Regions from separate parts of the Homo sapiens genome. Here regions 2 and 3 are each linked to region 1. The links come from fine-mapping of genetic effects on gene expression. A gene starts in region 1. Each other region holds a variant in brackets. All regions are shown on one strand. Distances are from middle to middle.

Region 1 (11,469 bases):
TTGGGAGGCCGAGGCAGGCAGATCACCTGAGGTCAGGAGTTCGAGATCAGCCTGGTCAACATGGCAAAACCCTGTCTCTACTAAAAATACAAAAATTGGCTGGGCATGGTGGCAGGCGCCTGTAGACCCCAGCTACTCAGGAGGCTGGGGCAGGACTGCTTGAAATCCAGGAAGCGGAGGTTGCAGTGAGTTGAGATCATGCCACTGTACTCTAGCCTGGGTGACAGTGCAAGACTCCATCTCAAATAATAGAAATAAAAAAAATAAAATAAACAAAATTTACAGAAAATACAAGGGACAAAAGAACATATTACATGAAACCACTGGGATCTCATCAACACAATCTAGATTCTGAGAAGTATCATAGGGCAAAGACCTGGCTTCTTCAACAAACCAATTGTATGGGAATAACCACAATAAAAAGATAGAGGAAAACTTATAGATTAAAAGAAAAAAGTATCGATTACCTAAACCCAATGTAATATTTACAGACCTTATTTGGATCCTAATTCACAAAAATTGTAAAAACAATACAAAAACTATAATCAGGGAAATGTGAACACTTGATATTGATGATATTAAGGAATGCGTGTTACTTTTTTTAGTGTATAATATTGGGATTGTTTTAATCTTTATATTTTAGAAACACATAATGAAATATTACAACACTTACAGTCCTTCTTTTACTAGTGTCTTCCCTAATACATTTTTCGTGATGTTACTCAGCAGGCTATAGTCCCATAGTAGCTGCATAACAAATAATTAAAAGAGGTACACCAGCCTGGACAACAGGGCGAAACCCCATTTCTACAAAAAATACAAAAAAAATTAGCAGGGCATGGTGGTGCACACCTGTAGTCCCAGCTACTCGGGAGGCTGAGTTATGAAAATTGCTTGAGCCTGGGAAGCAGAGGTTGCAGTGAGCCAAGATCACATCACTGCACTCCAGCCTGGATGACAGAGTGAGACCCTGTCTCAAAAAAAAAAAAAAAAAAAAAAAAGGAGCTACAAAGTGATGCAGAGATTGAAAGGAAGTAGATCACAACTGGAGTGGGGTGAAGAATTAACCAAAACTTCAAGAAGGCAATGAAACGTAAATCAGGCCTTTAAAAACGGTGAAATTTTAACAGGTAAGAAACAAGTTAGAAGAAATAATATTCCAATTGGAAGAAATGGAAGCAACTGCAAAAAGGTAAGAAGGTGTGTCTCTACAGAGTATTGGCTGGTACTCATCTCTCCATAAAACTGTCCCTTCCCTAATGATGACATGAAAAGGAAAAGTCATAACCCACTAGGCAACTCCAAACTGACAAAATCCTGGGAGAGCTATTAGGCCCAAAGCAACTCCAGGCAGCCCTGTCCCCGAACAGATCTCTGGGTAATCAAACCATACTGGCTTTCCAGTGCAGTCTATTCATGTCAGTCCCTGATTCCTCCTACCCAACAACCTTGGGAAAAGAATACATGAAGTTCTTTTACCTGTCCTAGGAAATGATTATTGAAGTAATTAGTTTAAAACAGTATCCACTAATAAGCTACGTTTCCTTGCCTAAAAGCCACCAACACAGTTCATTAAGAACTCCAAGAGAGAAAAAGTTACATAAAATGCCTTCTGTCAGAACATTCCTCAGGTTACAGATTTTTTTTTTTTTTTTTGAGATAGAGTCTTGCTGTGTTGCCAGGCTGGAGTGCAGTGGTGCGATCTCAGCTCACTGCAACCTCCGCCTCCCAGGTTCAAGCGATTCTCCTGCCTCAGCCTCCCAAGTAGCTGGGACTACAGGCGCCACCATGCCCAGCTAATTTTTGTATTTTTAGTAAAGACGGGGTTTCACCATATTGTCCAGGATTGTCTTGATCTCTCGACCTCGTGATCCGCCCACCTTGGCCTCCCAAAGTGCTGGGATTACAGGCATGAGCCACCGGGCCCGGCAAGGTTACAGATTTTTTTAAATAAAGAATAGCTGATAAAGCAGGTAGCTAAGATTTTTTTTCTTCAAAAATAGAATAGGTAGTTCTAGTATTAAAATGTTTTGGAATACTCTGGAATTGAATTTGGAGGTTCTAATATTTTCTGTGCCCCAGTATCGTTAAAACTTTCAAGATATGATACCAGCGAAAATGAACATCAAGACAAACAGGAATGCAGATGATGTGCCAAAACTCAGTAACTGGAACATATATTACTGCCCTCTTCCGTGTACTAGAGTATCACTTCAAATAACCAAGAAGGGTATGTATAGGGAGTTAACAACAAGTAGGAGTGCTTTTCTTTTTTTTTTTTTTTTTTTTTTTTTGAGACGGAGTCTCGCTCTGTTGCCCAGGCTGGAGTGCAGTGGTGCGATCTCGACTCACTGCAAGCTCCGCCTCCTGGGTTCACGCCATTCTGCTGCCTCAGCCTCCCAAGTAGCTGGGACTACAGGCGCCTGCCACCACACCCAGCTAATTTTTTGTATTCTTTTAGTAGAGACGTGTTAGCCAGGATGGTCTCGATCTCCTGACCTCGTGATCCGCCAGCCTCAGCCTCCCAAAGTGCTGGGATTACAGGCATAAGCCACTGCGCCTGGCCAGTAGGAGCGCTTTTCTTAAACCAAAGGAAAAAGCAGCAAGGTAACAGGTCAGGTTAGCTTTAGGCAGTCTTTAGTCACTACACCTTCTTTCACAATAACTGAGACTAGCTAACACCCTCCCAGAAATCAAATAGAATTGTTCCAACTTATCAGAGGAAATGAATAAGGGAATGGGTAAAACATAATAAGGATGCAGGAGAGCTGGGAACCTTTATATCATATAGAAAAGTCTTCATAGTGAGATATCTGTAGAATAAAGCTAAAGTAAAAAAAAATCTAAGTCATCAATTTTTTATAGTACATGCTGTACTTCTGGGTCATTGTCCAGGTGTGCTCTCAATACTTAAGAATACCTCTTTGATTTTATTAAAAATACCACAAAGAAAAGTCCTCATAGATTTTGAACTCCATTCTAAACCAGTGGATGGCCACAAAGGAAGAAATACCTGTTTTATTTGTTCCTCTCAGGTACACATAAAACTACGGCATTTACCTTACCTTCTCAAAAAAGGCAAAATATATAACTTTTAGAAAGCTTCATCTTCTGTCTCATCTTCTGAAACTGACAGGTTTTTCCCTTTCAAATACTGATCCTTTGCTCATACAGCTTTCTTTACATTACCTTTTTGTGAAATCTTAGATAAGTTGATAGAACAACAATTTCAAGTTCAAAATATTATCACATTCAAATTCAATCTAGTAATTGTGTAAAATACTGAGGAAGATAAAAAGAGGAATAAATATAGTACTTCCTCAAAGACCCTGTAACAGATCTGTAAGAAAATTATTATGCATCCCTCAATATCTGCAAGAGACAGGGAAAAAAAGAAAATTACAGTGCAAAACATATAGTAGGCTTCTGCTTGTTTGAGACATCGCCTAGGTTGGCCGGGCGCAGTGCTCATGCCTGTAATCCCAACACTTTGGGGAGGCCGAGGCGTGTGGATCACGAGGTCAGGAGTTCGAGACCAGTCTGACCAACCTGCTGAAACCCCGTCTCTACTAAAAATACAAAAAACATTAACTGGGAATGGTAGTGTGTACCTGCAATCCCAACTACTCAGGAGGCTGAGGCAGGAGAATCGCTTGAACCCAGGAGGCAGAGGTTGCAGTGAGCAGAGATGGAGCCACTGCATTCCAGTGGTGTGATCTCGGCTTACTGCAACCTTCGCCTCCCAGTTCAAGCGATTCTCAAGCGATTCTCGTGCCTCAGCCTCTGGAGTAGCTGGGACTACAGGCATGTACCACCATGTCTGGCTAATTTGGTTCTCATGCCTCAGCCTCTCAAGTAGCTAGAACTACAGGTGTGCACCACCACACCTGGCTAATTCTTGTATTTTTAGTAGAGACGGGGTTTCATTATGTTGGCCAGGATGGTCTAGAACTCCTGACCTCAGGTGATCCGCCCACCTCGGCCTCTCAAAGTGCTAAAGTGCTAGGATTACAGGCGTGAACCACCAGGCCCGGCTGCAGAATATATTGCTACAAAAAGGGTACAATAACTCAAGAGTACACAGAAGAGAATGTATCAACCTGAATGTGAGAATCTGACAAGTAGAAAGTGACTCAGAACAAAAATATTCAATCTTTAAGAATTCTTAATTACACAGCTTCACCTTACACTCCCAAACTGTAGATCATGTTCCAATTAACACAGCTGGGCTCTTTTTTCAGACACCCCATCTTGTCCCCACTTGAAGCAAAATTTTATTTAAAGTAAAATTTGCCTACTGTTTCTAGAGAGTTAACAAAAATCAAAGTACCAGCCTGCAAACCACCGCAAATTGAATGAAACTGCTGGTAATAAAAAAAGAAAAATTTGACTGCTTCCAGGTTTTTAGTAAGTTAACTCTGAAAGATAACTTAAAATAACTTACTGGGAATTTTTCTTATATTTAGGAGCTGAAAGATGCAGTGATAATAAGGAAAACGAATCTGAGAAATTTAAAGAAGCCAGCTTTGTTGAAAACCAAGTGGCCACTTGCCAACACTTCTTTATGCACGTATGACCAAAGATGATTCTAGGCAGACTCACAGACCACAAAGGCTCTTTATCAAATCCCAAATTAAGAAAGTTCTCATAAATATTTCAATTTTGATAAGTTAAAGACCAGTTAAGTTTTAAAAAGCACTTTATGAAGTGCAGAATCAATACAGAAACGAAGCTTTGCGCTTTTCATATCTGAGCCCGAAAAACAGCACACATTTTATGTTACATTTACAGTCTATTCACAGACACCTATAGCTTAGATTCCATCAAGAAAAACACTGGTCAATGGAAAAGTGACTGGCCTTAGTATAAAATTTCCATGTGGCCAGCAGGGAAGAAACCGCATAATTCTGAATTACAACTGACAAAACTACGAGAACCCTAAATCGAACTCTTCGCCTTGAACTCCATATACAAACATTTCAGATTCGTACTTCCACTTCCTGAAAATAATACTGTTTGTAAACGAAAAGGCAATAAGGTTACTCCCAAAACTCCTGTACTCCATGATCCATCCTCAAAGAGTGGAAGGAACAGCAAAGTAGAAGGAACAAAGCACTGACGTCAATTACGAGATTAACCCCAAGCACAGGCAGCTGGAGGAAAGGCCTAAACATCAATATCCACGCACAAGCTACTGGGATAACTAGGTAACAGACCGATTCAGAAGTTGTAGGGGAGGGTATTCGAGTATTATACCCCCACGTTCCCATTTTTAGTCAATCCCCTTCGCAAGTCGAAGGCGGAAATTTTTCCTTCTTTTTTTTTTTTTTTTGCGGGGGTGGGGGTGTGGGAGAGGTGCGCAGGATCGCGAGAAGGAAAGCGAGAACTAGCTGGGTAATGTTAGCCAGAATCTGGGCCTATTTTCTCTTTAATTAGACATAATTTGAAATTGAGGAGGATATGAAAAAGTAACAAATCAGCCGATGGAACGTCTGAGGAAAGAAAGAGGAAAGGAGAAACACTAAACGGATGGATTTCTGGGAATTTTTGTTAGGATTGGGTTAGCTTTTTTTATTTTCTTATCTTTGCGGGAAGGTGGTGGGGTGGGACGCGCAGATGAGAGGAGGGGTGACGCCTGATTGAGCAGCCCCAGCCCGGAGGGTCTCCCCGAGGCTCCCCGCAGAACTTGCGGGCCCCCACCCCCACCCGGCCCCGGCCACAACCCCCGCGGCCCGGCCCGGCCCTGGGTCAGTCTGTCGGCCCTTCTTACCTCCAGTCCCGGCTCCGCTAGGCCCGAACCATCTCCTGGCTGCGGCAGTGGCGGCGCCGGGCCTGCACCTTCACCGGACGCGCATTCGAGCCCGCCCAGGGGGCGGTGACAGGCTGCCAAGGGCGAGGGGCTCCGGGAGGCGGCGGGGGTTCCGGAGGCCTCGACAAACGAAGGCGGCGTCGGCGGCGGCGGCAGCGATGCGCCTCACACGGAACAGGCGTAGGCCCCGCACCGCTCCATGACGGTCGGGCCCGGGCTGGGACAGCTGACTGAGGCGGCGGGGGCGGGTTAACGAAGACCTGGCACCAGGATCCCCGCCCCGTCCGCTGGCGGCGGCGACGGCAGCTGGACTCCTGCAGCCAGGGCTGTGACTGACGCAGCGGCCGTGCCACCATGTGACCAAGACCGGGCGGGTGCGGGGCGTCACGTGATGCCTCTGCGCCCCTCCCCGCTGGGGGAGTAGGGGGCGGGGGTCTGTGGGCCGGCTGGGCCGGGAGGCGACGCCCGGGGTGGTGACGTTCCCGGCTGTGGGGTCTGATGACCCGGGCCAGGCAAAGGACCCGCCCGAGCGGTATAGGCCTGAGCCTCTGGGCACTGCGGCCGCGTCCGGCAGGGCTGCCACGGCAGTACAGGGCCTGCACATCCGGGAGCTCACGCCCTCCTGCGCGTAGCCCGCTAGTGAGGTTCCGAAGGGCGGGGCCGGGCCGAACCGGATATGCCGGTTCTGGGGCTCAGGTGACAAACCCAGGCCTTCCGCCCCTCGCCTCTGGTGGGGATCCGGCCCAACCCGGAGCTTCCTAGACTTGCTTCCAGGTGTCGAAGCCTCGAGTCCTCAAGAGGTCCAGCAAAAAGGCAAAGGACGCAGGAGGCTGTTCGGTATTTCCAGTAAACTTACCCTAAGAAGCCAAACCGTCCCTCTTTCTTCGTCATTTAAACATCTTCTGCCACTAATGTTTTCCTTTTCATTTATTTATTGAGATAGATCTCGCTGTTGTCGCCCAGGCTGGAGTACAATGGCGGGATCTCGGCTCACTGCAACCTCCGCCTCCCGAGTTCAAGCGATTCTAGTACCTCAGCCTCCGGAGTAGCTGGGATTAAAGGGGGGAGCCACCACCTACGGCTAATTTTTGTATTTTTAATAGAGACACGGTTTCACCATGTTGGCCAGGCTGGTCTCGAACTCCTGACCTCAACCAATCCACCCGCCTGGGCCTCCCAAAGTGTTGGGATTACAGGCGTGAGCCACCGCACCCGGCCCACTAATGTTTTTCTTCAGCATATCATTCTGAACACTTCTTTCACCTCTAAACATCTACTATTTCTTTTAAGCTTCACTCTTTATATGCATTTTCTCTATAGAGCTATATAAATTAGGAAATGTCTTAATAGAAAACTCAAAACATGACAGAATAAAAAATAATTGATTCTCCCATCTCTGTCTGTTAGCTGTTTCAGTCCTGGAAGGCAATCACTTAGCATTTAATAATGTATCTTTCCCTACATATTTGTAAGTAATACATTAAAATATAGGGATACTTCTTTTTACACAAAAGGTAACACACTATATACGCTGTTCAGTCCTTTTTTTCTCACTTCAAATATCTTGGATAGGCTGGGCACAGTGGCTCAGGCCTATGATCCCAACACTTTAGGAGGCCGAGGGGGGCTGATCGCTTGAGACCAGGAGTTTGAGACCAACCCCGGCAACATGGCAAAACCCCATCCCTATGAAAAATACAAAAATTAGCCGGGCGTGGTGGTGCATGCGTATAGTCCCACCTACTCTGGAGACTGAGGTGGGAGGATCACTTGAGCCTAGGAGGTCGGTGCTGCAGTGAGCCGGGAGCTTGCCATCCAGCCTGGATGAGAGTGAGACCCTGTCTCAAAAAAAGAAAAAAGAAAAAAATGTCTTGGACATCCTGCCATATCAGTATATAATGAACTACCTTTTTCTTCCTAGAGGCAGAATAATATTCCACTTATGCAAACATCCTAATTTATTTAACCAATCCCCTACAGGTGGATATTCCGCTTGTTGCCAAGCCATTACTATTACATGCTAAGCTGCAATGAATAACCTCATACAAGACAGGGCAACATAGTGAGACCCCATCTCTACAAAAAATAAAAAATTAGCCGTTTGTGGTGGCACAGGCTTGTGGTCCTAACTACTAGAGAGGCTGAGGTGGGAGAATCGTTTGTACCCAGGAGATGAAGGCTGCAATGAGCCCTAATCGCACCACTGCACTCCAGTCTCAGTGACAGAGCAAGACCCTGTCTCAAAAAAGTTAAAATAATTAAAAACGAAAAACAACTCCATATAATGAGCAAATTATACCTGTATGATAAATCCTTAGCCTGGAATCTTTAGATCAAAAGGATTTTTAATTTTGATAGATATTACCAAATTATCCTACACAGAAATTGTGCCTATTTCATTTACTTGCTTTCAAATTCTGCTTAAGAAGATTTACAAGGCTGTATAGGTTGGAGGGTTGAGGGGATGGAGAGTGGCAAAAGAAAAGAATATTTGTCACTTTACACCGTAATAATTTTTTTTTTTTGAGACAGAGTCTCGCTCTGTCGCCCAGGCTGGAGTGCAGTGGCGCCATCTCGGCTCACTGCAAGCTCTGCCTCCCAGGTTCACGCCATTCTCCTGCCTCAGCCTCCCCAGTAGCTGGGACTACAAGTGCCCGCCACTACGCCCGGCTAATTTTTTTGTATTTTTAGTAGAGATGGGGTTTCACCGTGTTAGCCAGAATGGTCTCGATCTTCTGACCTCGTGATCCACCCGCCTCGGGCTACCAAAGTGCTGGGATTACAGGCGTGAGCCACCACTCCCGGCCACACCATAATAATTTTGATTAAAGATGAGTATTAAGGTGCAAATTGAAAATATGTAACAAACTTTAAGTTTCCTTGCTTATTCTGAAGTAAATGTTATTTGGCTAACGCAAATAATAATATGCTTTTGTTCCATAAAGGATAGTGATACTTTTTCAATACAAAATGAAACCTTATTTAAAAACCAAAAAGGGGAGGAATGGCCAGTATAGCCTTTTATTTGGCATTATTCTGCAAATAAGAAGTTTCCGGCCAGGTGTGGTGGCTCATGCTTGTAATCCCAGCACTTTGGGAGGCCAAGGCAGGCAGATCACCTGAGGTCGGGAGTTCCAGACCAGCCTGACCAACATGGGGAAACCCAGTCTCTACTAAAAATACTAAAATTAGCTGGGCGTGGTGGCCAGTGCCTATAATCCCAGCTACTCAGGAGGCTGAGGCAGGAGAATCACTTGAATCCAGGAGGCCGAGGTTGTGGTGAGCCAAAACCTTGCTGTTGCACTCCACCGTGGGCAGCAAGAGCAAAACTCCATCTCAAAAAAAAAGTTTCCTCTGTTTCAGCAAATAAAAGAAAAAGTTCCTAAAATTATTTCTAAGTTTTTAATATTTTAATATTGTATCATTTTGTTTAAGAAGTTACATCTGTTTTAACAAAGTGAATGTTCTGTCTCTAACTTCATGTTCTAGAACAGTGTAAGACTACTGTGCAGAATGGAGAAATTGCAGAAAATGACGTACCATAAAACTAAAAGAGAAACAAAGGCCGGGCACGGTGGTTCATGCCTGTAATCCCAGCACTTTGGGAGGCTGAGGTACGTGGATCACAAGGTCAGGAGTTCAAAACCAGCCTGGCCAAGATGGTGAAACCCTGTCTCTACTAAAAATACAAAAATTAGCTGGGGGCAGTGGCAGGCGCCTGTAATCCCAGCTACTCAGGAGGCTGAGGTAGGAGAATTGCTTGAATTCGGGCTTCAGAGGTTGCAGTGAGCCAAGATCGTGCCACTGCACTCCAGCCTGGGCGACAGAGGGAGACTCTGTCTCAAAAAAAAAAAAAAAAAAGAAACAAAAATCTCAAAGCAAAATATGATTGTTTTACTAGCATGCAAGATTTTAACAAAGGATTTAGGCCAGGCACGGTGGCTCATGCCTGTAATCTCAGCACTTTGGGAGGCCACAGCAGGTGAATCATCTGAGGTCAGGAGTTCGAGACCAGCCTGGCCAACATTGCGAAATTCTGTGTCTACTAAAATACAAAAATTAGCTGGGCACAGTGGTGTGCATCTATAATCCCAGCTATTTGGGAGGCTGAGACAGGAGAACTGCTTGAACCCGGGAGGCAGACGTTGCAGTGAGCCAAGATTGTGCCATTTACAGTCCAGCCTGGGCAACAGAGCAAGACTCTGTCTCAAAAAAAAATAAAGATTTAATGTATATTGTTAGAGTAGCAATACTTAGTAACTGAGTACTGTTTTTAAGTTAGGTTTTTGAAGGTAAAATTTACATATCATAAAATTCATCCTTGGCTGGGCGTGGTGGCTCATCCCTGTAATCCCAGCACTTTGGGAGGCAGAGGTGGGCAGATCACTTGAGGTCAGGAGTTTCAGACCAGCCTGGACAACATGGTGAAACCCATTCTCTACTAAAAATACAAAAATTAGCCAGGCATGGTGGCGCACACCTGTGATCCCAGCTACTCAGGAGGCTGAGGCAGGAGAATCACTTGAACCTGGTAAGTGGAGGTTGTGGTGAGCCGAGATCTTCCCACTGCACTCCAGCCTGGGCAACAGAGTGAGAATCCGTCTCAAAAAAAAAAAAAAAGTATATAATGTACAGTTTTATGAGTTCTGACAAATGCATACAGTTGTGTAACTACCACCACAGTCAAGATATAGAACATTTCAATCACCACAAAATATTCCCTCTTGCCCCTTCGTAATGAACCCTTCATTTCAACCCCAGTTCCTGGAAAACATAGATCTACTTTTTGTCCTTATACCATTACCTTTTCCAGAATATCAAACAAATGGAATCATGCAGTATATAGCCTTTCAAGTCTGGCTTCTTTCACTTGGTATAATGCTTGTGAAATTTATCCATTGTTGTTTTCATGTATCAGTACTTTCTTTTTTTTTTTAATCACTGAATAGTATTCCATTGTGTGGATATAACATAGCTTGTTTAGCCATTAATCAGTTGAAGAACATTTGGGTTGTTTCCATTAACAAAAAACAATTAGAAGTCATTGTAGAAGTCCAAAAATAAAATAAAATAAAAATTATGAATAAAGCTACTATAAATATCCATGTACAAGGTTTCATTTGGGCCTTAAATGATCTCCACCAATATTTTCTGAAAATCACATCTAGATATAGGAACTACCAAGTCACAACTACAGCTACGTAAACATTATTCCATATTATTTTAGAAACTCAGATAATTTATTCATTATTTATCAAATATTTATTAAACATCTACTATATAGCAGGTATTGTTCTAAGCACATGGATAAGACAATTGTCAGATACTAGCTCCCCCAAAATACCACCAAGACAACCCATTGGCGAAACCCTGTCTCTACTAAAAATACAAAAAAATTAGCCAGGCGTGGTGGCGGACGCCTGTAATCCCAGCTACTTGGGAGGCTGAGGCAGGAGAATTGCTTGAACCCGGGAGGTGGAAGTTGCAGTGAGCCGAGACTGCACCATTGCACTCCAGCCTGGGTGACAGAATGAGACTCTGTCTCAAGAAAAAAAAAAGCAAAACTGAGTTATTGTTCACTTCAATAAAAAAGATCACTACCTTAACACAGTCTCAGTAACATCTTTAAGGGGGAAAGCAAAGTTGGAATATTTATAAGG
Region 2 (11,469 bases), 150 kb before region 1:
CTTTGCAGGGACATGGATGAAGCTGGAAACCATCATTCTGAGCAAACTATCACAAGGACGGAAAACCAAATACCACATGTCCTCACTCACAGGTGGAAACTGAACAATGAGAACACTTGGACACAGGGTGGGGAACATCACATACCGGGGCCTGTCAGAGGGTGGGGGACAGGGGGAGGGATAGCATTAGGAGAAATACCTAATGTAAATGACGAGTTAATGAGTGCAGCAAACCAACATGACACATGTATACCTATGTAACAAACCTGCACGTTGTGCACATGTACCCTAGAACTTAAAGTATAAAAAATAAAAATAAAAATAAAAATAAACAGCACTTTGAGCCAGGCACATTGACAGCTGCCTGTCATCTCAGCAACTCGGAAGGCTGAGGCAGGGGATCACTTCAGCCCAGCAGTTCCAGACAAGCCCAGGCAACATAGCAAGACTCTGTCTCAAACAACAACAACAACAACAACAATAAAAGACTAGCATTTTGCAGGCCTCTCAGATTAGGCCCTTCCTAATTCAGACGGTGTCCCACATGAAAGAAAAGCTGACCCCAGGGAACACGTATTCTATTTTATGGAATGAAGTGTTGCCCATTAAAAGAAAAAAAAAAGAAAGAAAGAAAGAAAAAGAAAAACTGACCCCCCAAATGTCCCAGGGGTAGGGGAGCAGGTATACTCTTTTAAATAAAAACTCAGGCCGGGCACGGTGGCTCACGCCTATAATCCCAGCACTTTGGGAGGCCGAGGCAGGCGGATCACGAGGTCAGGAGTTCAAGACCATCCTGTCCAACATGGTGAAACCCCGTCTCTACTAAAATACAAAAAATTAGCCGGGCATGGTAGTACACGCCTGTAGTCCTAACTACTCGGAGGCTGAGGCAGGAGAATCCCTTGAACCCGGGAGGCAGAAGTTGCAGTGAGCCGAGACTGTGCCACTGCACTCCGGCCTGGCAACAGAGCGAGACTCCGTCTCAAAAAAACCACAAACAAAAAACACCTCATACCTGAGAAGGCAAGGGACTGAAAGGGATGATTAAAGATGGGTAGCAAAGGGCACCAACTGCTGGAGATTCATGAAGCCAGGACACAGCTTTCCAAGTCTCCGTGGACCAGGTCTGTGGCTCCCTACTTAGCAACCAAGCAATAGTCTGAGCAATCAGAGAAGCAGCAGCCTGAAAAATGAACTGCAGAGTCAAAAACTCAGTCTACAGCAGAAACACGTGAGCTGACACTTTCACTCAGATTTAGAAATAAAGTTCTTTTGACCTTAGAGAGAAGTGGGCTTAACAAGCTGCAGGCATGAGAGAGGTCCCCTTTGCTTCCCCTGGGCTGGAAGCAAGAACAAAGCACGATTTGTTCCGGAAGTTGACCGCAAAAGCTTGATATCTGGGCAAAGTCCCTTTACAGCCACTGCTGGGCAGCCCATCCCCCTCAAGTCCCTGGAGCTCCTGCCTCCTGGGACCGGAGGAACTCTTCTTTACAGATGAGATGTATTGGTGAGACACCAGGGGGCAGAGGTGGCAGGCTGCGTTGGATAAACGCAATGGAAGGAGCTGATTTGCACTGCCATGGTAGGGGAGAAGACATTTACAAACATTAAGCATCCGCTACAGCTCTTGGTGGGGCCTAGGCATGGGGTTCAGAGGGTAGTGTGGATTGGAATAAGGAATAGAACAGAACAGAATACAGACCAGGCGTGATGGCTCACGCCTATAATCCCAGCACTTTGGGAGGCCGAGGTGGGCAGATCACCTGAGGTCAGGAGTTTGAGACCAGCCTGAACAACATGGTGAAACCCTGTCTCTACTAAAAACACAAAAATACCATTGGCAGGCATCTGTAATCCCAGCTACTCAGGAGGCTGAAGCAGGAGAATCACTTGAACCCAGGAAGCAGAGGTTGCAGTGAGCCAAGATCGTGCCATCGCACTCCAGCCTAGGGGACAAGAGCGAGACTTTGTCTCAAAAATAATAATATAAATGTAATGTAACATAGCATAAGATTATGAAATTATTTTATTTTATATTTAAATATTGTAGCTTTAAAAATTACAGAGGGCCTCTACCCTGATCTGCTTCATATTTAAGATACTGAGATAAGAACAAATAGCCTTCCTATTTCATTCTCCATGTTCAAGACACATCATGGAATTTTATCCTTGCTATAAATATACATTTTATATTTGATTTTCCTAATGTTGCGGGCAAACTGCTGGGTCACTGGAAGAATTGATTCTCTGGCCTCACTGGCAACAGGGCATCAAAACTGAAAAGCAGCCTGGGGAACTGGATGTCATTAGCATCCTCACTGTAATGTTTGCTCAAACTATAAACTTATCACTTAAAATATTAAAGCAGAGTATGTTCAGAAGCACAAGCATAAATAAAAGTTTAAGTAAGGTATTTGTGAGGAGTTTTTCCCTACTTTATTTATTAAACATTCAGAACATCAATTTTAAATCATCAGTGACCTAACTTTGCATGGTAAATGAGCATAGGCAGGTAGCCTGGGGTTCCAGTTTGAGCTCAGCCAATTGTTAACTGTGACCTTGGCCAAGTTTCCTTATGTAGCTCAGAGCCTGAAGCCTGTTAAGCACTGTCAATAAACGGCTTGTACTAGCAATTCCTGTTCAATCAGTATTTAATCCTTGTCTACTCTTAGCGATCATGAAACCACCATTGCAAAATTATAACTGAGACAGTGAAAGAGATCTGATCTTACTAACTCCATCTTGCTTCTAACCTCCAAGTTGTCCTTGTTCATTCCTGAGCATAGGCCAAATTAACTTTGGGAGAAACTTAGTTTATAGTTTGAAACAAAGATGGTAACAGCCCTTTCCCAAAATGAACTAGACTGCCTTTGTAGAATTAACAAATTAGCCAAAAGATTAGATTATGGTTTAGAAGTCAGGCAGCTGGAGGCTGCAAGATTCTAAACCTCCCCAAATTGCCCCTGGGGATAACGTCACTATTGTGAAGCCTAAGATCAGTTCTTGAGATATTTTGCAGACCCTGTACTTGATGCATCAGCTGGCACCACCCAGGCTCGTAAACTGGCTCATCTGGTCTTGTAGCCCCCACCCAGGAGCTGACTCAATGCAAGAGGACAGCTTCAACTCCCTGTGATTTCATCTCTGACCTGACCGATCAGAACCCCCAATTCACTGGCCCCCCTACCCACCAAATTATCCTTAAAAACTCCAGTCCCTAAATTCTCAGGGAGACTGATTTGAGTAATAATAAAACTCTGGTCTTCTTGCACAGCCAGCTCTGTGTGAATTACTCTTTCTCCATTGCAATTCCCCTGTCTTGATAAATCGGCTCTGTCTAGGCAGTGGGCAAGGTAAATTAATCCATTGGGGGGTTACAATCATAGTCAAAATTAGTTCAAACCACATAAATCAATAATGATCTTTAACAGAGAGTGCTCTCCCTCATCTCTCTTCTTGGAGACAAGAGATGGTAACAAAAGTCCAAGTTGAAGCTTCACTACCTATGAGATCATGGAAATGACTTTTCAAGGAACACAACAATTGGCCCAGAAAAAGGTAGGAAAATAAAATATAAAAAGTAGCTATTGAAATGAAAATTAAAACAAAGGGAATATAACTTTAAAAGTGAAAACAAGACAATATAATGCAAGTTCTGTTTCTGAAGTATCTTTGGCACCCATCCACTGTCCGAGCTTGATAAGCCCTACCGTCTTCCACTGGACCCTGCCACTACCTCCCCAGGGTCCCCTCTTCCGCCCATTCGCCACACCAGTCTTGACTAAGGTAACATGGGTTCTTAGCAACACGCGGTCTAATCCCATGTGTACCAAATGGTGTAGATGGTTGTGTATATATCTATGGATGTACAGAGAAAAACTCCTCACAGCATAAACTAAAAAATATCAAGTGGCTCTCTAACATGTGACATATTCTTTTTATATTTTAGAAACTATTGAGAATTGGAAAAAACATTAATTCTATAATCAGAAAATAAAGCCACTTTTTAAAAAGAAGAAAGCAAGCTCTCAATGACATTCTACTGCAAACAGGGCAAAGTCCAAACTACCATTTAAGGCCCTTCACCCATCACCCCAGATGACTTTTCCAACATTATATTTTTCCATATCCCTGGCACACACCCTGAACTTCAAACACACTGGACACTCTTTACCCTGAATTCAGCCTTCATAGTCCCACTTTCTTTTTTTGTTGCCCAGGCTGGAGTGCAGTGGCACTATCTTGACTCACTGCAAGTTCTGCCTCCCGGGTTCACACCATTCTCCTGCCTCAGCCTCCCAAGTAGCTGGGGCTACAGGTGCCCGCCACCATGCCCGGCTAATTTTTTTGTATTTTTAGTAGAGACAGGGTTTCACCATGTTAGCCAGGATGGTCTCAATCTCCTGACCTCATGATCTGCCCACCTCCGCCTCCCAAAGTACTGGGATTACAGGTGTGAGCCACCACACCCGGCCCACAGTCCCACTTTCAAGCTTTCACCTATCCTGTTCTCATAGCCTGCCTCTTGGAGATGTCCCAGTCCTCCCTCTTCCCTATCCTTCCCCACCCCTTCACCCCCCATCCCCCACGTGCTCTGGTAAGTACCTGGAGCATTCATTTCATTTGGCTATGTCACATAATTAATTGTACTTAATGTTTTTCTCTTCTCCACTAAGCAGTAAGCTCTTCAAAGGCAGATTGTATCTTCTACCCAGAGTATCTGGCTTACAGCCTTGCACCCAAAGATATCCAATAGATGTTTGTTGAAATAAATTATTGAGGAATGCAGAGCACGATACACCTGAGGCAGTTTGCAGAAGGCTTTACAGGGGTGGGCCTTGAGGTGAGTCTAAAGAATGGGTAAGGTAGGGCAGGCGCAGTGGCTCACGCCTGCAATCCCAGCACTTTGGGAGGCTGAGGTGAGTGGATCACCTGAGGTCAGGAGTTCGACACCAGCCTGGCCAACATGGTGAAACTCCATCTCTACTAAAAATAAAAAATTAGCCAGGCATGGTGGCACATGCCTGTAATCCCAGCTACTTGGGAGGCTGAGGCAAGAGAATTACTTGAACCCGGGAGGCGGAGCTTGCAGTGAGCCAAGATTGCGCCATTGCACTCCAGCTTGGGCAACAAAAGCAAAACTCCATCTCAAAAGAAAAAGGGGGGGCGCTGGGGTAAGGCTAGATGCAGTGGCTCACACGTGTAATCTTTGGAGGCTGAGGTGGAAGGCTCGCTTGAGGCCAAGGGTTTGAGACAAGCTTGGGCAATATAAAAATAAAATTAGCTGGGTGTGATGCTGTTGCGTGTGATGGTGCGTGCCCTGCGAATTCTACTCCTAGGAGCCTATCCTAAGGAATTACTCAGAAAGGTGCACAAAGTCTTATATATCAACAGCATCATTTATAAGAATTAAAAACTAGAAACAATATAAACAATGAAGAACAAGAAAACAAAGTATAATACTACATTTATTTGATGCTATCATTAAAAGTTGTATGTTTTTGAAGACTAGACTAGCTATTGTCATTGGGAGGAATGCTCACAATATAAAGTGAGGGGGAAATGTTTAAATTGTTTGCATCTTGGGGACAGGGCTGAACTCAGAAATTGCCCCTGGGGATTGGATTGGGGAAAGGGGACCCTTTACATTTTAGTCTTCTGTTTTCCTTTTGAGTAATACTAATAGTAGTGACTATACTACTAATAATAATTCAAATGATTACTGTAAGCCAAGCATTATGCTAAGTCTTTTGTGTTTATTTTCTCACTTAATTCTCTCAACCATCTGAGCAGGTAAGTACTATTTTCCTCATTCCTTTACAGACAAGAAAGCTGAGGCACAGAGAAGTCAAGGCATTTGCCCAAGGTAGAGCCAGAACTCAAGTGTAGAATGTTGACTCCAGAGTCTTGTTTTCTCAGCTACTACAATATGCTGCTTCTGGTTAGATATATTTGTAGTACTGCAATTATTTATTTATTTATGAGACAGGGCTTGCTCTTGTCATCCAGGCTGGAGTGCAGTGGCGCCATCTCAGCTCACTGCAACCTCCACCTCCCGGGTTCAAGCGATTCACCTGCCTCAGCCTCCGGAGTAGCTGGGATTACAGGTGCGTGCCATCACACCCAGCTAATTTTTGTATTTTTAAGTAGAGATGGATTTCACCATGATGGCCAGGCTGGTCTCGAACTCCTGACCTCAGATCATCCGCCCAA[G/C]TCAGCCTCCCAAAGTGCTGGGATTAGAGGCGTGAGCCATCGCGCCCGGCCTGCATTTTAAATTAAGGAACTGATTCTACCTCTGCCAGGCAGTTCCCTCAACTAGAAACCTCTTCCCCGTCTACATAACTCCCTGATCTCCTTCAAGTCCTTGTTTAAATGTCACTTTCACAACGAGTACTATCCTGACTGCCCAGATCAAAATTGCAACCTGACCCTCATCCGTTATACCCCGCTGTGCTTTTTTCATAGCATGTATTTAGTATATCATATAGTTTTCGGATTCACCATATGCTTCTGTTCTCCTCCAACACATGAGCCCCACTAGGTCACGGGTTTTTAAATCTGTCTTGCTAACTGACGCATCTTAGCCAAAAAAAAAAAAAAAAAAGTCCTGGCACAAACTACGTGCTCAATACCTATCTGTGGAACAAACGAAGGTTTAAAACCATGGCATGACTCCGCATTGCTTTCTTACTTTAAAGCATAAACATACATACACACATGGGAGACAGGGAGAGGATATTTCAAAATGTTAATGGTGATTTCAAGTGATTTTTTTTCCTTCTTTATGTTTTCCTCTATGTTTTCCTGTTATGTTTATGTTTCCTGTGGTTTTATACCCCAAATTCTACGTGAAAATGTATTCTCTTACCATGAGAAAATTGCTTTTGAAAACGTCTCTCTAAACCTAGAGTAACGTGCATTGCCGCGCAGAGTGAATTGGTTTTGCTGTAAATCTCATGAAGCCGTTTTCCTGCATGAAACACAGTAAAAAAAAAAAAAAACTGGAGTGGTATTGACGACCTTTAAAAAAAAAAGATTGTTCTGAAATCATCGCTTGGTGTTTTGCAGTGGTTAAATGTTTATTAAAGGAATAAAAATCCATTCCTCCTTGGCGGACCGCGGCGTCCCTAGGGAACACACCCACCTAGCAACCGAGACCAGAGCTGGAGCGCTGCGCCTTTAATTCTGGGGCGGGCGGGGGGCGGCGGGAATTTCTGCTCCGGTTCCCTCTGCATCGCGGGGGCAGCTGTCACCTGTAAGGCGAGCGCGGCGCGGGGGATGGAAGCAGGCGCCCATTGGACAGAATACAAAGGCAGAAACCTACCCCGAAGGCCGGGGCCCGGCGGGGCGCTGGGGGTGGGCGCTCCCCGCGGCCCCCGGCGCCCTTCGCCCCGAGACGCCCCGGCCCAGCGGCACTGGCGCGACCGAGGTCCAGCTTCGGGGACACGCCCGGCTGGCCGCGGGGAAGGCACCAGGTGAGCGCGGCCGCGCCTCCCGGAACCCCGCTCCCGCGCGTCCCGCGGCGACGCGGCGCCCACCCGCCCCGGGAGCCAGGAACCCAGGGCCCCACCATGGCGCTGGCCGCCGCCGCCGCCGCTGCGGCTGCCGGGGTGAGCCAGGCGGCGGTGCTGGGCTTCCTGCAGGAGCACGGCGGGAAGGTGCGCAACTCCGAGCTGCTGAGCCGCTTCAAGCCGCTGCTCGATGCCGGCGACCCGCGGGGCCGCGCCGCCCGCAGGGACCGCTTCAAGCAGTTCGTCAACAACGTGGCGGTGGTGAAGGAGCTCGACGGCGTCAAGTTCGTGGTGCTGAGGAAGAAGCCCCGGCCCCCGGAGCCCGAGCCCGCACCCTTCGGCCCCCCGGGGGCAGCGGCCCAGCCGTCGAAACCCACTTCGACGGTCTTGCCGCGGAGCGCCTCTGCCCCGGGAGCTCCGCCCTTGGTCCGGGTGCCGCGGCCAGTGGAGCCGCCAGGGGACCTGGGTCTGCCAACAGAGCCACAGGACACCCCGGGGGGGCCGGCCTCCGAGCCCGCTCAGCCGCCCGGGGAGCGGTCCGCCGACCCACCGCTTCCAGCCCTTGAGCTAGCCCAGGCCACCGAGAGACCCTCCGCAGACGCGGCCCCACCGCCTAGGGCCCCTTCTGAGGCGGCATCGCCCTGCTCTGATCCGCCAGACGCGGAGCCCGGGCCCGGGGCAGCGAAAGGGCCGCCGCAGCAGAAGCCCTGTATGCTGCCGGTGCGCTGCGTCCCGGCCCCCGCCACGCTCCGCCTCCGGGCGGAGGAGCCCGGCCTGCGCCGGCAGCTGTCGGAGGAGCCGAGCCCGCGGAGCTCCCCTCTGCTGCTGAGGCGGCTCTCGGTGGAAGAGTCCGGTCTGGGCCTCGGCCTGGGCCCGGGCCGCTCCCCGCACCTGAGGCGCCTGTCGCGCGCCGGCCCGCGTCTGCTGAGCCCTGACGCCGAGGAGTTGCCCGCCGCGCCGCCGCCGTCCGCGGTGCCCCTGGAGCCGTCCGAGCACGAGTGGCTCGTGCGGACTGCCGGGGGCCGCTGGACCCACCAGCTGCACGGGCTGCTGCTGCGCGACCGCGGCTTGGCGGCCAAGCGCGACTTCATGTCTGGCTTCACGGCCCTGCATTGGGCCGCCAAGAGCGGCGACGGCGAGATGGCGCTGCAGCTGGTGGAGGTCGCGCGGCGCAGTGGCGCACCAGTCGACGTGAACGCACGCTCCCACGGCGGCTACACGCCGCTGCACCTGGCTGCACTGCACGGCCACGAGGACGCTGCCGTGCTGCTGGTGGTGCGTCTGGGTGCCCAGGTGCACGTGCGTGATCACAGCGGGCGTCGCGCCTACCAGTACCTGCGGCCCGGCTCCTCGTACGCGCTGCGCCGCCTTCTTGGCGATCCAGGCCTGCGAGGCACCACGGAGCCAGATGCGACCGGTGGTGGAAGTGGCAGTCTTGCTGCCAGGCGCCCCGTACAGGTGGCCGCCACCATCCTCAGTTCCACCACCAGTGCATTTCTGGGCGTCCTGGCTGACGACCTCATGCTCCAGGACCTGGCCCGAGGCTTGAAGAAGTCGAGCTCCTTCAGCAAGTTCTTGAGCGCCTCGCCCATGGCTCCACGTAAAAAGACAAAGATCCGCGGTGGTCTGCCAGCCTTCTCAGAAATCTCTCGTCGACCTACTCCGGGGCCTTTAGCTGGTCTAGTGCCCAGTTTGCCTCCAACAACCTGAAGGTCCCTGGGGCTACCACCTGGTTGATCTATCGTGGCCTGCTCGTCGCAGTCCAAACCCGCCCAAGACTGCAGCCCAATCAACGCCTGGAGCCTCATTCTGTTTCCAGCTTTGTCCAGGGCAGCCTGTTTTACCCAGATGGGCCTGCACCTCCAGCTTCTTTCTGAAGCATGACCCATCTCCAGAGATGGGATTTGAGAAATCAGTGAGAGCTTCCTATAAAGAACTCCAGGAGACAGGCCTGAACTCTAGAGGGAACTTGAAATCCAGGGTCAAAGGTTAAGGGGCAGCAGCTGGTCTGGCCCCTGAAAGCCTTCACCTGATGCCTCTGCAGCTACACAATCCCAAGACAGAGCTAGAGCAAGGGTCTCTTTAAATGTTGAAAGATGTTAGGTTGTCAGCTTTAAGATATGTGGTGGTTTTGTAATTTGATGCTTTTATTCTGTTTTTAAATTGAAATGAGGTAATGCAACTTTCGTAATAACCTTTTGGAATTATATTTTTCCACTTTTAGGCAAAGTGCTTAGACATTTTCAATTTTTTTTTTGCTAAATACTTTGGAATTCTATTTAAAAAATAGATGATCAAGATCTAAAGGAAATTAATCCCAACCAACAAACTTAAAAGTTTATCTACCTCGTTTTAGGCAATCAAGATTCTGGAGAGTCTTGAACACAGAATAACGATTGTGACCATTATGAATGTAACTAATTTCAGTTGTACTGTGAATGCTAAATATTTGCAAACAAGTACATCTTGAAAGTAAAGGTGACTTAGAGAAAAGAGACATTTTGACAGATACTTTTAATTTGTGGTTGTCTCCATCATGAAATAGAAACGTGTTTGGCACTTGTGGGTGGCTATTTTGATTTGGCATGACTACTTAATTTTTTAAAAAAATTGTGGTTTGTGAATTGCACCTTTGTGCCATGTTTCTGAATCTGGTTTTCAAATCCAGTGGAGCCTTTCAGTGAAATAGGTGACTATTAAAAAAGTAATAGTATTACAGAAAAATGAGCGATTAAATAGTAATGGATACAATTAAGGAGCAACTATTTTATATGACTGTTCTGTACAAACAAAAAGTATGTAATACCCATTTTAAAAAACCATTTGAAAGTAGACAACTTATTCCAAAATAGCAAATGCAGAATCTCTGCTCAGTGAGCTTGGATGAGTGGCTTAACTTCTCTGGGCCTTTGTTCCTATCTGTAAATGAGAAAGTTTGTAGATATTGCCAAGATTTCCCAGGCTCAATACAGTGTAATTATTTTATGTTTTAAAGATATGAAATCTGTTTACTCAACCAATTTTTTAAATGTCATATTGTGATAATGCTCTGCTTTTGCAAATTGTGTTTGCATGTCATTAGTTATATCAAATAGTTTTGTGGCATGGGGTAGTGGAGCTTCCCTCCCCACCCCCATATGTATCAGTGAAGCCTTTGAAATTACTTAAGGCAGTCTTTCATGGAATGTTTTGATTGAGCAATGAAATAAACAGTCCTCCATTTTGTTTCTGCTTGAGTGGTGATGTACTTCCCTTAAAAATTGTACAGTTTTTGCTATTGTATTTTTCTTTTCTTTTTATCTAATTTCCTTCATTCTTCTGCCTCTTTCAAGCATTCTGTTATTGAAAGAAGTTGGATTGCTCTGCAAAGTAAAGGAGTCAACCACACATGGATATCGTAATGGAGAACTGTAGATAAATGTGGGCCCTGATGTGACCTTCCCACCTTCCTTGCCTGGAACTCTGCATAAATTATTTTAAAATGCAAATTAAATCTTCTGCCTCTGCTGAAAAATTGTAGGAGACACAATTATAGCAATTGGAGTAGCTGACAGTCTAGAAAACAGAATAAAATACTAGAGATTTTCCATGGTAAAAGAGACACCTGACTCAGACAGGGCCTCAGACAAAGGTCACAGACACAGGTATGACCTGCCTTGATAAAGACAACGTTTAAACCAGCAAAGTAGTAATAACAATAACTAATGTTTATTGCACACTTAAATCAGAGGAGGGTCATTTGAACTGCCAGAAGAATCTATGTGTTTCAGAAGAGTGTGCTGCAAGCCTTCCAAGTGAAGTAAAACATTTAGCAAGAGTTTAGGATCAATATACCTAAAGCTCAGGTGTTAGAAAACACTGCTTTTCCTTGCAGGCCAAAGCTTTCTGCAACTATAAGGTAAGCCGATAAGAAATTATAGTTTCATACGCATAGGGAAAGTTTTTAAGAATCATATAT
Region 3 (5,000 bases), 55 kb before region 1:
ACCCTGGTAAGAATGCGAAATGGTACAGCTGCTTTGGAAACATTCTGGCAGTTCCTCAAATAAGTAAACACAGAGTTACCACATGACCCAGCCATTCCACTCTTAGGTACACAACCAAACAAAATGTAAACATATGTCCACACAAACACTTCTACATAAGTGTTTATAGCAATATTATTCATAACAGCCAAAAAGTGGAAACAACTCAAATGTCCATCAGCTGATGAATGTATAAACAAAATGTGATATATACTTATACACTGGAATATTATTTGGCCATAAAAAGGAATGAAGTACTGTTACATGCTACAACTTAGATGAATCTTAAAAACATAATGTTAAGTGAAAGAATATAGTCACAAAAGACCACATACTACATTATACTATTTATATAAAATGTTTAGAACAGAGAGATCTATAGAGATAGAGTAGATTAGTGGTTGCTTAAGGCTAGGAAGGTAGAGGGAAAGAGGGATAACAGCTAAAGGGTACAGTTTCTTTTTGAGTTGATGATTTATAAATAAACTCAAAACTACTGAACTCTACACTTGAAGTAGGTGAATTACATGGTAAGTGAATCACATCTCAGTACTGCTGTTAAAAAACTGTATATAGAGCAGTGGGCAAGAGGTCACTTTTGTGACTTTTGTTTAAAATGAAGATTCCAGGATGGGTGTGGTGGCTTATGCAGGTAATCCCAATACTTTGGGAGGCTAAGCAATGAGGATAGCTTGAGGCCAGGAGTTCAAGACCAGACTGGGCAACATACCAAGATCCTATCTGTACAAATAATAAAAATAAAATAAAATGAAGATTCCTTTACCCCCTCAAATTGTTTATTGTCTTATATTCATTTACTTGGTAAATGGCCTAAAAGTTAATAGCCCCATATTCCAAATAATCTGATTTATTTGTCTTATATCTGACAATAGTCAGCAGGTCCACAAATACTACTGGATTCTGTCTCTTAAACATCCACCAAAGGCGAGACCATCTGAACCGGAAAGACTTCAGGTCTTCATCTTGTTTACCTACAATGGCCTTCTAATGGATCTTCCTAGCTCTAGTTTATCTCCTTTACTCAGCTATAGCCTCCCTTCTACAGCCTGTAGAAGTTTACCCTTCTACAGCCCAAGTCTTAGTATGCGTCATCACTGCTCTCCTATTTTTCATAGAACTTCCCAATGACTCTTTGTTTTTTCCTAAGGATGAAACCCAAACTCTCTGGCAACACACTTACTCATGTATCAAAGTACTGAGAAAACAATGATAAGCAAAAACTGACAAGGGCCCTGCCCCCATGGAGCTTAACACCTATTTGAATGTCAATAATTACTACCTTTGCAAGTACTCACGCAAATCAAAGTAAAATGGCAACTGTAATAAACACAATGAAGGGCAAATACACATAATTATATTGAGTTTGTAATTGTGCATGCATGTGTACCTGTGTGCTTGTATGCATGTGTGCATATGTGTGTGTGTGTGTATGATCTAGCCAGGAAGATGAGCAAAGGCTTCCCTGAGGAACTGCCATTCAGATTGAAATTTGAAGGATATATAGGAAATAAACTGGGAAAGGAAGAGATAGGCTAAGTGCCATAGGGAGAGAGAAAACATGTGTAAAGTCCAGCTTAAAGGGAAGAGCATGGCTTGTACAAGGAACTTAAAGGCAGCCCACAGAGAGGAAAAAGTAAAGGTGGAAGAGTGGTGAGATATGAGACTGAAGACCTAAAATGCTAGATCACACAGTTTACAGACTTATAGACCATATTAAAGACCTGTGTGTGTGCAGCTTATTAAGTAGGAGAGTTACACAACTACATCTGCACATTGTGAGGATCATCTCGCCTACTAAGTGGAGAACAGTTTTAAGAAAGCTAGAATGGAGTTAAGGATACAAAATGAGGTTACTGGAGTAGTACCAGTAGGAGATAACTACAGCTTAAACAAGTTTGTCTTCCAGCTTTTTTTTTTTTAATCATATACTCCATTACTAAGAAATTTTTCCATTTGTATCTCCAAAATATGTATAGAATATGCATTACTACTTATGTATAAGATTAAAATACTGCAATTTCAAAAGCATAACAAAAATTAAATACCATTTTTAGAGTAATTTTTAAATATATTTATGAATGACAACAAAACCTTTCTTACACACAAAAATATAATGCTTCAAAGGTATGACGCTAAGATGGACTTATTTTTGATATCTGGTTTCACTGGATGCCACAAAGATATAGTTATACTCATGGAAGAAATACCATGCTTATTAAATCACAGTAACAAAATTTCAGTCCTATACATTAATTATGTAAAGAATTCTATTGAAGTTGAATTAGATTTCCATGTTCCTTGTTGTAAATCATTTAGAAAAATAAATTAGAAGGATGCATTTTATTATTTTTAGCAAATAGGTTCAAACCACTGATTAGAAATTTTTTTTCAGCTCTTTACAGTATTCATATTAGAACTGTGGTTTTTTGGTAACAAAAAACTAAAAATACATAAACAATGACAATATTATTGTTATTTTCCTAGCTTGAATGTATGTATATGTATATACACACACACTCATATATAATCTATACACTATATATATACATATATATATATATAT[A/ATTT]TATTTTTTTTTTTTGAGACGGAATCTAGCTCTGTCACCCAGACTGGAGTGCAGTGGTGTGATTTCGGCTCTCTGCCACCTCCAGCTCCCAGGTTCAAGCGATTCTCCTGCCTCAGCCTTCCAAGTAGCTGGGATTACAGGCACCTGCCACCACGCCCAGTTAATTTTTATATTTTTAGTAGAGACAGGGTTTCACTGTGTTGGCCACGCTGGTCTCGAACTCCTGACCTCGTGATCCACCCACCTTGGCCTCTCAAAGTGCTGGGATTATAAGCATGAGGCACCGCACCCAGCCGCTCAAGCATATCTTTTAGGGAAGCGGTTACTTCATTCATTGTTAAAACATCATCTTTTTTTTTTTTTTTTTTTGAGATGGAGTTTCACACTCCTGTAGGATGTTTCATACTTGTTGCTCAGGCTGGAGTGCAATGGCATGATCTCTGCTCACTGCAACCTCCATCTCTTGGGCTCAAATGACTCTCCAGCTCAGCCTCCCAAGTAGCTGGGATTATAGGCGCATGCCACCACGCCCAGCTAATTTCTGTATTTTTAGTAGAGATGGGGCCGCCATGGTGGCCAGGCTGGTCTTGAACTCCTGATCTCAGGTGATCCACCCGCCTCAGCCTCCCCAGGTGCTGGGATTACAGGCATGAGCCACCACAATAGGCCAACATCATCTTTACTCTGAAGAGAGAAGGGGGTTTAATTATTTTTTAAAAATACATTATGAAAAGATACATATAGCATATTTCGTGGTGGTGTGCGTGTGTGTGTGTGTATCTGTGTGTGAGATAGAGAGATTAAAAAGAGAGAGGTGTCTAACTCATTTTTAAGTGGGATAACTGATATCATGAAACAATTTCTATGTTAGTGTAAAAAATATTCAGATTCACTCCTCATTTCATTACAGAATATATTGTACAGAGCATGATTCTATAACTGAGTTGAAGATATTCACAGTTCCAGACATTTCTGGCTTCAACATCATTGTTCCAACACTGCAACTGTGCATAAACTGCACTTTTGCCATTACTCTTGCCTTGTCCTGGGTTCCTTTTTGTAATTCCTGTTAAAGCAGCTACTGTATCAACAGGTGGAAGGGGAAGGTAAAGAGGGAAGGAGATGGGGAGGAGAAGATAAGATTTGTGAAGCACCTAGGTAAAGAGGTTCTAGGTAAAGAACAGAATACAAAGAGAAGACAACTTACGTCTAAGTGTGATGCACACAACTACACATCCAATTAAACACTAATAAATAATTCCTATTGCTTTCTTTTGTATTATTGATTTCTACAACCAAATGTTTGGTACAGGCAAAACACATTTCTTGTTTCACACTTCCTTATAACACCCAGCAAAATACCAGGGAAAAATAGCAAATATGAATCAATCTTTAGTAAGTTTTATTCTAAACAAAAGGAGTGACTGATGAATCACATGGAACAGAGGGATTGAATTGTTTTTGTTTTTAAATGGGACCAATTCAAGGAGAGAGATGAATATACTAAACCAGCTCCCCAATATGATCCTAAACTTAGCACCATTTGCCGCCTGTGAACTGCTCTTTCAGACTCGTCAATGGTGTGAAGTGCTTTCTGATGTGTTCCTTATCAACCCACATCTTGCTAGCACTCCTATACTTCTCCTTCAAACTCTAATTGGTGTCACCTCCTGTAGGATGCTAACCCCAAATTCCCTAGGTATAACAACTTTCTCCCTTCTCTGTCCTCTCATTGGACTTGGTACATATAGTTAGTGCACATGGAGAGTAAGTACCTATTAAAGTATCACACAGAGCTTTTAGGTATATTACACATGAAGTTGTACCCACTTAAATTTGGAGAATGAGATAAGCTATCGGTAAGAAGCAACCCACCTTAGCAACAGTCAGTCAGTAGCTGAGGTGTCTCACAAACACCAAAATCTAAACACTGTTACTTGAGTATATACATCCAAATTCAGTTAACAAACATTCATTGAACAGCTACTTTGTGCCAGAACTATTCTAAGCATTGGCACAGCGTTTTCCTATGTTCTTTAAATACCCATCTTAGAGCAAGAACATTTAAATTGTACAGCGTTCTATCTCCAGTGTCAAGAACACTGCTGGAGGTTGTTCCAAACATGGTGAGTAAGTGCAAAGGCAATCAAAATCTTTAATATTCTCCAAACTATCACTGGAAAATCTCCCAAGCTATCCCCAACTATACCCATATTCTCTGCTTCCCTCTGGTGCCAATGAAGTAGTGGTGTTCTATTCTAAAGCTACTGTCCTCTACTTGGGCACTGAATCTCAATCACTCTTGTGAAGATTTCCTAAGGTTACCTCTTCTCTTTCCCATGGATCATTTGTTTTTCCCTTTCTACTAAGCCATCAG

Alleles and levels. Alleles are on the strand shown, and positions count from the first base shown. SD is a standard deviation of normalised expression in the study named. Not every link is listed here.
For the expression in B cells of the gene that starts at base 6,146 in region 1, allele A in region 3 goes with a lower level than allele ATTT (large effect, 1.3 SD a copy in Schmiedel 2018).

The links.
Region 2: its variant is fine-mapped to the expression of AFF4 in whole blood (TOPMed, PIP above 0.99).
Region 3: its variant is fine-mapped to the expression of AFF4 in B cells (Schmiedel 2018, PIP 0.95).

Annotation. Positions count from the first base shown.
Region 1 is chr5:132,957,489-132,968,957 of GRCh38, forward strand. It overlaps AFF4 (ALF transcription elongation factor 4), which reads right to left and starts at 6,146. Exons shown (of 21, transcript NM_014423.4): 1 at 5,771-6,146. It overlaps AFF4-DT (AFF4 divergent transcript), which reads left to right and starts at 6,324. Exons shown (of 2, transcript NR_186175.1): 1 at 6,324-6,646; 2 at 6,753-7,202. RefSeq lists an enhancer at 3,173-3,674 and a silencer at 5,601-6,440.
Region 2 is chr5:132,806,051-132,817,519 of GRCh38, forward strand. It overlaps SOWAHA (sosondowah ankyrin repeat domain family member A), which reads left to right and starts at 7,252. Exons shown (of 1, transcript NM_175873.6): 1 at 7,252-10,736. The coding sequence starts at 7,572. The coding sequence ends at 9,221. RefSeq lists silencers at 2,427-2,721, 8,287-8,356 and enhancers at 8,396-8,896, 8,897-9,397. The variant G/C (reference allele first, on the strand shown) is at 6,214.
Region 3 is chr5:132,906,151-132,911,150 of GRCh38, forward strand. The region is part of intron 5 of AFF4 (ALF transcription elongation factor 4); the gene reads right to left. Among named protein-coding and RNA genes, the nearest start is that of LEAP2, 35 kb to the left of the region's middle. The variant A/ATTT (reference allele first, on the strand shown) is at 2,624.